Linked DNA regions of Homo sapiens: region 1 is linked to region 2. The links come from fine-mapping of genetic effects on gene expression. A gene starts in region 2. The other region holds a variant in brackets. All regions are shown on one strand. Distances are from middle to middle.

What was found. PIP is the estimated chance that this variant, and not a neighbour inherited with it, causes the effect. A credible set is the group of variants that fine-mapping cannot tell apart.
Region 1: its variant is the best candidate, but not a certain one, in a credible set for the expression of CD300LF in adrenal gland (GTEx, PIP 0.71).

The regions. Positions count from the first base shown.
Region 1 is chr17:74,684,064-74,689,439 of GRCh38, forward strand. It overlaps a transcript of RAB37 not described here. Among named protein-coding and RNA genes, the nearest start is that of RAB37-AS1, 9.1 kb to the left of the region's middle. The variant T/G (reference allele first, on the strand shown) is at 2,243.
Region 2 is chr17:74,709,864-74,715,239 of GRCh38, forward strand. CD300LF (CD300 molecule like family member f) reads right to left here and starts at 3,060. Exons shown (of 7, transcript NM_139018.5): 1 at 2,961-3,060. The coding sequence starts at 3,003. It also overlaps a transcript of RAB37 not described here.

The DNA.
Region 1 (5,376 bases), 26 kb before region 2:
TAGTGAATAATGAGAGTCATTATTTTATTTATTTATTTATTTATTGAGACGAGTCTCTCTCTGTCACCCTGGACTGCAGTGGCATGCACTCTGCCTCCTCTGCCTCCTCACTGCAACCTCTGCCTCCCAGGTTCAAGTGATCCTCCTACTTCAGCCTCCTGAGCAGCTAGGATTACAGATGTGTGCCATGAAGCCCTGTTAATTTTTTTTTTTTTTTTTAGTAAAGATGGTATTGGCCAGGCTGGTCATGAACTCCAGACCTCAAGTGATCCACCTGCCTCAGTCTCCCAAAGTGCTGGGATTATAGGCGTGAGCCACCACACCCAGCCAAGAGAGCCATTATTATTAATATATTTAATTGCAAAATTTGAAAAATGAAAAACAAAGAAAAAATTTCCTGTGATGCCAGTGTTTCAAAATACATATCTTAAAAATAAAAATGGACTGCGCACGGTGGCTTACGCCTATAATCCCAGCACTTTCGGAGGCCGAGGTAGCTGGATCACTTGAGGTCAGGAGTTTGAGAACAGCCTGACCAACATGACGAAACCCTGTCTCTACTAAAAATACAAAAAAGTTAGTCGCGCATGGTGGCGGGTCCCTGTAACCCCAACTACTCAGGAGGCTGAGGCAGGAGAATCACTTGAACCTGGGAGGCAGAGGTTGCAGTGAGCCAAGATTGTGCCACTGCACTCGAGCCTGGGTGACAGAGCAAGGTTCTGCCTTAGAAAAAAAGAAGATGAAATTGCCATGTAAAAATACATGCATGTGTTTATTTATACATATGTGTGAGATAGATAGATAGATAGATAGATAGATAGATAGATAGATAGATAGATCCATCATAGGAATTTTGTTATACACATTTTTACCTTCATTCTTTTTAATCACTACATAGAATTCCATTGTATAGATAAGTGAAAATTCATGGTTTATTCTGAAATTTTGAAACTCATAGAAAGGTACAAAAACTAGAAGAACAAAAAGAAAATGACACATGTACCTACCATCTATATTTACTAAATGCTAACATTTTGCCTTAAAAAAAAAAAAAAAGAAGGCTCCTATAGGTAGCTGGGATCCACTTTGCAAGATAGCCATGGGATAGAAGGTTAATTGGGTTACTTTGTTTTTGTTTTGATATGGAGTCTTGCTCTGTCACCCAGGCTAGAGTGCAGTGGCGCGATCTCGGCTCACTGCAACCTCTGCCTTCTGGGTTCAAGCGATTCTCCCACCTCAGCCTCCCAAGTAGCTGGGATTACAAGTGTGCACCATCACACCCAGCTAATTTTTTGTGTGTTTTTAGTAGAGACAGGGTTTCACCATGTTGACCAGGCTGGTCTCGATCTCATGACCTCAAGTGATCTGCCTGCCTTGGCCTCCCAAAGTTCTGAGATTACAGGCGTGAACCACTGCTCCAAGCCCTAGTTTGGTTACTTTGAAATCACAGCCTGATGGGTCTGCGGCACTTTTAGTTACACTCCATTTCGTAGAAGAGAAAAGAGATCTGAGAGACATTCAGTGGTTGTTCAAGGGCACTCAGCAGGGAATAAAAGAGAAACCCCAATCCAAGCTTCAACTCCAGACCCTAACTCTTCTCCTTATCCCTCCCTAGATTCCCAAGGTCCTTAGGAAAGGGAAGGCTTGGACTGGAAGCTCCCCCAAACCCCTTTATCACTGACCTCCAGAAATGCTAGTGAAGCCCAGGTGACAATCTCAGCCTGGCCCAGGATAAACACCAAAGCAAAATCAATGCCAGTGGGAGATATTCATTCACAAAGTGGATTCAAGACCCTGCGTGCAGAGCTGCTCAGATGAAGCAGGCCCAAATGCAGTTAGTCACCGTTAATTGGGTCTCAGGAGTGGAGGAGCAAACAACAGCATCCCCTGGGGATTTGCCTCCATCAACCCAAGTGCAGGGTAAGAAGCCCAGGAAAGCAAGCCAAGCTTTGCAAGCACCAGCACTGCCCCTGGGCAGACTCTCCTTCACTCTATCTCCACGTTCTCTCCCATTTGCCCTCATATCTTGTTATATTTTTTTTTTCTTGAGATAGAGTCTCACTCTGTCACCCAGGCTGGAGTGCAGTAGTGCCATTTCGGCTTACCGTAACCTCTGCTTCCAGGTTCAAGCAATTCTCCTACCTCAGCATCCCAGGTAGCTGGGGTTACAGGCACACGCCACCATGCCTGGCTAATTTTTTGTATTTTTAGTACAGACGGGGTTTCACCATGTTGGCCAGGC[T/G]GGTGTCAAACTCCTGAGCTCAGGCAACCCACACGCCTCAGCCTCCAAAAGTGCTGGGATTACAGACGTGAGCCACCAAGCCCGGCCTATTATTATTATTTTTGAGATGGAGTCTCGCTCTGTTGCCCAGGCTGGAGTACAGTGGCACCATCTCAGCTCACTGCAACCTCTACCTCCTGGGTTCGAGTGATTCTCCTGCCTCAGCCTCCCGAGTAGCTGGGATTACAGGCGTACACCACTACACCTAGCTAGTTTTTGTATTTTTTTTAGTAGATACGAGGTTTTGCCATGTTAGCCAGGCTGGTCTCTAACTCCTGACCTCAAATGATCCACCCATCTAGCCCTCCCAAAGTGCTGGGATTACAGGCATGAGCCATACAACCAGCCTCTTCTAGTATTTTAAGCTGACTTACTGTACCTACATCTCCACTGGTTCTTTCCCTTGCCACCTGCCAGACAGCTGGATGTTACAGTGCAAGGATGCAAGGTCTCTGGGTCGCAGTCCTTCTTTGCTTATTATTAATTTTGCAGAGGCTGTGTGAAGTTTGAAATAAGTGCACCGTCTGAATTTCACAACTCTTTCCACTGAACTGAGGGAAGGCACCGGGCAGTATAGCTGAGATCAGGGCCTGTGACCTGTTGCTTCTTTGTCGTGGAAACCCTCTGCGTCATTGATAGAGGGCAGCATTCTGCATGTAAATGCCAACAAGTGCCAGTGCTCTGCTCTGCTCATAGCAGATTTCTACTACACAAGGGTGCAGAATGTCCCTCCTGTATTTCTGACCTTGGGGGACAGTCTTTCCCCTCCCTTAATTCTGAGCCCCTCCTCAGAGGTACCTTCAGAAAAACAAATGAGTCAGTCACCTTTTCTTTTTATTTATTCAGTTTATTTTATTTATTTATTTTATTTTTATTTATTTATTTATTTATTTATTTGAGATGGAGTCTTGCTCTATCTCCCAGGCTGGAGTGCAATGGCACGATCTTGGCTCACTGCAACCTCCATCTCCCAGGTTCAAGCAATTCTCCTTTCTCGGCCTCCCAAGTAGCTGGGATTACAGGGGCCCGCCACCACACCCAGCTAATTTTTGTATTTTTAATAGAGATGGGGTTTCACCATGTTGGCCAAGCTGGTCTCAAACTCCTGACCTCAGGTGATCCACCTGCCTCGGCCTCCCAAAGTGCTGGGATTACAGGCGTGAGCCACCACACCCAGCCAAGTCACCCTTTCTTGATGCAAGAGTTGCAGACCCTCAGGACAGAGCCATGTGAGGATATGGTCACAGTGGACTACTTTGGGGAAGGGGCTTGTGCTGGGGCAGGGGGAATCTGATTGCTTCAAGGGTCCCTTTCACAACTACTGGAGAGCTCCACAGCTCTCATTAGTGACAACCTTCATCAGCCTCCAAACAAAGAGGGTCACTAGAGGCCCTCAGGGGAAGCCTCACTACACCAGCGGAGATGTGATGGAGCGGGTCCATGCCTGGAGAACAGTGTGAACCGGATCCATGGCTGCCAATTCTCAGTCCATACCTAAGTACCAGCCCCTGACAAGTACCAACTGATGTGTAGGAAACGATACACACACATCAGTAGATGTTGGCATAAAGTTACCAACTGTCCTTTCTTAGGAAATACTGTCTATTATCCTGAGACTTGGGGTGCTCAAAGCTCCTTTCTTTTATGAAATTATGGTGACAATGGATTGTTGAATAGAAACTTTGTTAAGCAACCCCTCACTTAACCAACTTATTAGGTCAACCAATACCCTTCAGTCTCTTACTGGAGCACACTGACTAAGCCTGAGGCACAGAGTGCTCACAGCTGGCAGGCTCTTCTCTGCTCTCACAGTTGTGGTACCTGGTTAACAAGAATGCATTTGGGCCCATACTTGCTTATGCTGGTCATACGTGTTAACTAGAATGATGTACTTGAATCAATTCACCTGTAAACAAAGGAATTGGCCGGGCGTGGTGGCTCACGTCTGTAATCCCAGCACTTTGGGAGGCCAAGGCAGGGGGATTACCTGAGGTCAGGAGTTCGAGACCAGCCTGGCCAACATGGTGAAACCCTGTCTCTACTAAAAAATACAAAAAAATTAGCCAGGCATGGTGGCAGGTGCCTGTAATCCCAGCTACTTGGGAGGCTGAGGCAGGAGAATTGCTTGAACCTGGGAGGCTGAGGTTGCAGTGAGCTGAGATCACGCCACGGCACTCCAGCCTGGGTGACAGAGAAAGACTGCACCTCAAAAAAAAAAAAAAGAAAAGAAAAGAAAAAGAAAATACAAAGGAATTTAAACAGAAAGACTATTGACCAATAAAATAAGAGTGTAAAAAAAAAGAGAACGGTTATCTCTACAAAAACTAAACTGCTTTGGAAAGACACTATAAAAGCCTGTCACTTTTTAAAATGCTATCAAATTAGGAATGAATGAGAGAACTGTAAAATATCGGAAAGAAATGCATAAAAATGAAGAAAGATTTTGCAATCAGGTGGCTTCATAAGTTTCTAGAATTTCTTGCTTCATGTTAAAGAAACTGGAACTGAAACCCCAGGATCATGTGTGTGTGGTTTGTGCTTCAGGAAAGGCAATGGGCCCCACTTTTCAGCAGACTTGTAAGCAAAGCAAAGGCTTTAGGTCTACATCAAAATACTTGCTAATAACTACACATTTAGATATTTTAAGTCAAAATAAAACATGTAGAGGAAAAATAGCCTTGGCGCAGTGGCTCAAACCCGTAATCTCAGCACTTTGGAAGGCTGAGGCAGATGGATTACTTGAAGTCAGTTCAAGACCAGCCTGGCCAACATGGTGAAACCCTGTCTCTACTAAAAATACAAAATTAACCAGGTGTGGGCGAGTGTGGTAGCTGACACCTGTAATCCCAGCACTTTGGGAGGTCGAGGTGGGCAGATCACCTGAGGTCAGAAGTTCAAGACCAGCCTGACCAACATGGTGAAGCCCCGTTTCTACTAAAAATACAAAAATTAGCCAGGCATGGTGGCACATGCCTGTAATCCCAGCTACTTGGGAGGCCGAGGCAAGAGAATCGCTTGAAGTCGGGAGGCAGAGGTTGTGGTGAGCCAAGATTGCGCCACTGCACTCCAGCCCGGGTGACAGAGCAAGACTCTGT
Region 2 (5,376 bases):
TGCATCACCAGCCAAATTATTCTTAACAGTGAAATACTATAGGCATTCCTATTGACATCATAAACAAAACATGAATTCCCAATATATATAATAACATGATTCTGGAAGTTCTTTTTTGTTTGTTTGTTTTTTTGAGATGGAGTCAGGCTCTGTCGCCCAGGCTGGAGTGCAGTGGCTCAATCTCGGCTCACTGCAAGTTCCGCCTCCCGGGTTCACGCCATTCTCCTGCCTCAGCCTCCTGAGTAGCTGGGACTACAGGCGCCCACCACCACGCCCAGCTAATTTTTTGTACTTTTGGTAGAGATGGGGTTTCACCGTAGCCAGGATGGTCTCGATCTCCTGACCTTGTGATCCGCCTGCCTTGGCCTCCCAAAGTGCTGGGATTACAGGCGTGAGCCACTGTGCCCAGCCTGGAAATTCTAATCAATATAGGAAGATAAGGAAAAACATAAAATGTATAATTATCAAAAGGGAAAAAAGTTAGAGAAAATTTTTTAATTTTAAATGAAAAAGTATTTTAATTCATAATTGAATTTAATAGAGTGGCTAAATAATAAACATGTAAAAATCAATGGCTTTCCTATAAACTGCTAATAAATAGTTGGAAAGTAAAGTAGAAAAGTGCTCATTTACATTAGCAATAAAAGTGTATTAAATTCCTAGGAATAACTTTAACAGAAACAATAAAGACTTATGGAAAAAAAGCACAGTGAGGCTGGGCGCGGTGGCTCACGCCTGTAATCCCAACACTTTGGGAGGCCAAGGCGGGTGGATCACTTGAGGTCAGGAGTTCGAGACCAGCCTAACCAACATGGTAAAACCCCATCTCTACTAAAAATACGAAAAAAAAAAAAAAATAGCCAGGCATGCTGGCACACCTGTAATCCCAGCTACTTGGGAGGCTGAGGCAGAAGAATCACTTGAATCTGGGAGGCAGAGGTTGCAGTGAGCCAAGATCGCGCCACTGCACTCCAGCCTGAGTGACAGAGCGAGACTCTGTCTCAAAAAAAAAAACAAAAAATCTGTTCTTGCCAGGCACGGTGGCTCATGCTTTTAATCCCAGCAACTCAGACGGCCAAGGCAGGAGGATCACTTGAGCCCAGGAGTTGAGGCTGCAGTGAGCTATGATCATGCCACCACACTCCAGCCTAGGCAACAGACTGAGACCCCAACTCAAAAAAAATAAAAAACCTTCCTTTCTCACAGAAAACAAACTTCCGGATGGGTATTTTTTTTCTTGGGTGTTTTAAAACGATAAATTATTTAGAAGAGGGAAACAGGGTAAGCACACTTGCTGCTTGTGGGTGGAAGTTCTGCAGGAGAGGCTGGCAAGAGCTGATGCATGCAGGTTCACAGTGGTATCCGGGCTCCATGTTGGCGCCCATAGCTGTGCCTGCTGGCTTTTCTGCCCACTTCAGACAGAGGTCCCAAACCACTCCCACTCCCAACACGACTCTCACATCTGCTCACTACCAAATTCTCTCATTTCCAGGTGTCAGAAAAAAAGCAGCCATACCTGTCCTGGTCTCACTGTGCCAATGCATTTCATAACATCTCACCCAAAGTCTGCCTTCTCCACTTACATGCTGAAACTCGGGGCCAAGTGTCCATGAGCCACTCCCTGCTCTTCCTGTACCAGCCTAGCAGTCCTGGACAAGTCACTTTCTTCCCCAAGACCTTTTCTCCAATCTGTCCCACCAGGATCTTCTGAAGCATGAGGCAAAGCCGTGCTGACCTCCCTCTTCCTCAGACGTGCCCAGTCCAAGCTCATTCCTACACAAGAGCCCTCGTATCTACTGTTCCCTGTGCCTGGAAAGCTGGTCCCGATCCTGTGTCTGATCCTTTTCCTAGGTCTCGGCTCGGACAGGCATCTGGGACCCTCTTCAGGGGGGTTGTTTCAGCCCACCTGACTTACAGCATCCCCCTACCTGGGTCCCACTGTAACATATCATCTTGTTCTGTTTTCCTCACAGTACTTATCACTTCTCACTTCTTGAAATTATTTTTTTGTTTTCTTTCTTTTTTTTTCTTTTTTCTTTTTTCTTTTTTTTTTTTTTTTGAAACAGAGTCTCGCTCTGTCACCCATGCTGGAAGGCAGTAGTGTGATTACAGGTCACTGCAGCCTCCAACTCCTGGGCTCAAGTGATCCTCATGCCTCAGCCTCCAGCCTCCCAAGTAGCTGGGACCATAGGCACATGCCACCATACCTGGCTAATTTTTGTACTTTTTGTAGAGACAGGGTTTCCACATGTTACCCAAGCTGGTCTCGAATCCCTGAGCTCAAGCAATCAGCCTCCCAAAGTGCTGGGATTACAGGAATGAGCCTCTTTCCCTGGCCTCCCTTCATTTTTAATAAAAATTGTATGCACCAACTTAAGGTGTCTCCTGCCCTCTGGCTCTGCCCACATCTCAGTCCCTCCTTTCCTCTACGTCCCTGCCAGTCTTATCTCCTCTTGACCTTTCCGTCCCTCAGCAACTTCTACTATTTCCTTCTGCCCCAAATGCCTAGAACCACCACTCCCTCTCTGCCCAGCAAACTCCCTCTTCCCTCCTTTCAAAGTCCTCCAGCCTCACCTCTTCCCTGACGCCTGCCCTTGCTCAGAACACCTCCACGCAGGTGACAGATCACCCAGTCCAGGATCAGGCAGTCGCCTGCTCTCCTGAGCAGCCCATGTTCCTCCTCTGCTTTTCCCTGGCCGGCGGGGCCTACAGTCTGTCCATTTCACATGATCAGCCCCTGGGGGTCAGGAATTCTGCCTTGCACTGGCTTCATTATGAAGGTCATGCCCTGTATTCCTGCCTTGGCAACGGAAATGCTAGGTGAATGGTGGGTATGTGGATGAAACGCACAAGGCTCATGCCATTAAGGACACCTTCTGGCCGGGTCCCTTCTTCCCTCTCTCAGCCACCTCCTCCTGCTTGCTAAGCTTCCCCAAGAAGACAGACCCAGGCCCGCTCACCTGAGAGCCAGAAGAGGAGCAGGTAGAGTGTCAGCAGGGGCATCTTCTCTTCAGACAGGTCCCCGTTCCCCTCAGTGGAGCCTGGCAGCAGGAACAAACTACAGACTCCCAGCCTTCTGCTGGTACTCACTCTCGCCCTTGAACTTCCTCCTTCAGTCACTTCCCATGGGTGAAAGAGACTAAAAGAGGAAGGAGGTGGTTGGTTGGGCACCGTGGCTCAGGCCTGTAATCCTGGCACTTTGGGAGGCCAAGGCGGGCGGATCACGAGATCAGGAGTTCAAGATCAGCCTGGCCAACATAGTGAAACCCCGTCTCTACTAGAAATACAAAAATTAGCCAGGCGTGGTGGCGCACACCTGTAGTCCCAGCTACTCAGGAGGCTGAGACAGAAGAATCGCTTGAACCTAGTAGGCGGAGGTTGTAGTGAGCCGAGATCGTGCCACTTGCACTCCAGCCTGGGTGACAGAACAAGACTCTGTCTCAAACAAAAACAAAAAAAAAAAAAAAAAGAGGAAGGAGGTGGAAAGGGTGAAATTTCGAGGCAGTTGACAATGCAAGGGGTCACAGGAATCATCAGCTTCTGAGAAGTACCTCTCTGTACACAGCCACCGTGGGTTCTCTAAAAAGAGAACTTCGTGGCTCCTCTGTCATGTGGAAACCTGCAGACAGATCCACTGGGTCTGGCCAGCCCTTATCCAATCCTCCAAACCTGGTGGGTTGGCTGGGGGCAGGGGCACGCGGCTCCACCAGAGGGGTCCTGGAGAGCCACGGCTGATAGACACGATGTCCTAAACCTGGAGCTTCAGGTGTAGCCAGATGCTTGGGAGCCCAGAAGGCCAGAAGTTCAAGAGGATTGAGGGGCACTTGTGGCCAAAGTCAGAAAGCCAGAGGAGAGATTCCAGACCAAAGGTTGGAAGGCAGCTATGAGGAGATTGGGTATCCAACCCCAGACTACAAGGCCAGGTACGGTGGCTCACACCTGTAATCTCAGCACTTTAGGAGGCTGAGGCAGGAAGATCACTTGAGGCCAGGAGTTCAAGACCAGCCTGGGCAACATGGCAAGGCTTCATCTCCACAAAAAAAAAAAAAAAAAAAAAAAAAAAAAGTCAGGCATGGTGGCTCATGCCTGTAATCCCAACACTTTGGGAGGCCAAGGTAGGCAGATCACTCCAGGTCAGGAGTTAGAGACCGGCCTGGCCAAAATGGTGAAACCCCATCTCTACTAAAAAATACAAAAATTAGCTGGGCGTGGTAGCATTCACCTGTAATCCCAGTGACTCGGGAGGCCGAGGTAGGAGAATCACTTGAACCCAGGCGGCAGAGGTTGCAGTGAACCCAGATCGCACCACTGAACTCCAACCTAGGCAACAGAGCAAGACTCTGTCTCAAAAATAATAACAATAATAATAATAATTAGTTCTGCAGAGTCATGCATGCCTGTAGTCCAAGCAATCTGGGAAGCTAAGGCCTGAGGATTACCTGAGCCCAAGAGGTCGAAACTGCAGTGAGCTATGATTGAGCCACTGTTCACTGTACTCCAGCCTGGGCAACAGAGCAGACGCTGTCTCTTTAAACACACACACACACACACACACACACACACACACACACGCACGCACAGAGAGGTTCAGAGAGAAGGGAGATGCAAGCAGGGAACTACTGGCCCACTGACAAGAGGCGCTTTGTCCTGAGAACACGAAGGAAGCTCCTACTGCTGTACCCCAGCCCACCAGGTGAGATCCCAGGGATACCTACATCTGGAATCTTCCAGAAACCTGTCCATTGTACCAGGGGGTCTACCTGAGGAAACCAGTTCATTGCTCAGGACTATTATCCCCTCGCTCCACCCCTCACCTTATAACTATTTGTTGAAGGAAGGAAGGAAGAAAGGAAGGACCAGTTTTGCCCCTCACTCTCCTCCTTCTGACAATCATGTCCATCCCCCATCTCTCCTTTCCCATCAAGACCCCAGCAAGTCCCTAGGGTCGGGACTGGGGATATAAAAGGATTAGGAAGGGCCAGACTCAGTGGCTCACACTTGTAATCCCAGCATTTTGGGAGGCCAAGGCAGGTGGATCACCTGAGGTCAGGAGTTCGAGATCAGCCTGGCCAACATGGCAAAACCCCGTCTCTACTAAAAATACAAAACTTAGCCGGGTGTGGTGGTGGGTGCTTATAATCCCAGCTACTCAGGAGGCTGAAGCAGGAGAATAACTTGAACACAGGAGGTGGAGATTGCAGTGAGCTGAGATCGCACCATTGCACTACAGCCTGGGCAACAAGAGTGAAACTCCATCTCAAAATAAATAAATAAATAAAAATAAATAAAAGGATTAGACCTTTCTCACCTTCTGCACCTGGAGCCACTTTTGCCATGTGTCACATACACCCTGTGACATCTTGACAAGGGAGTGAG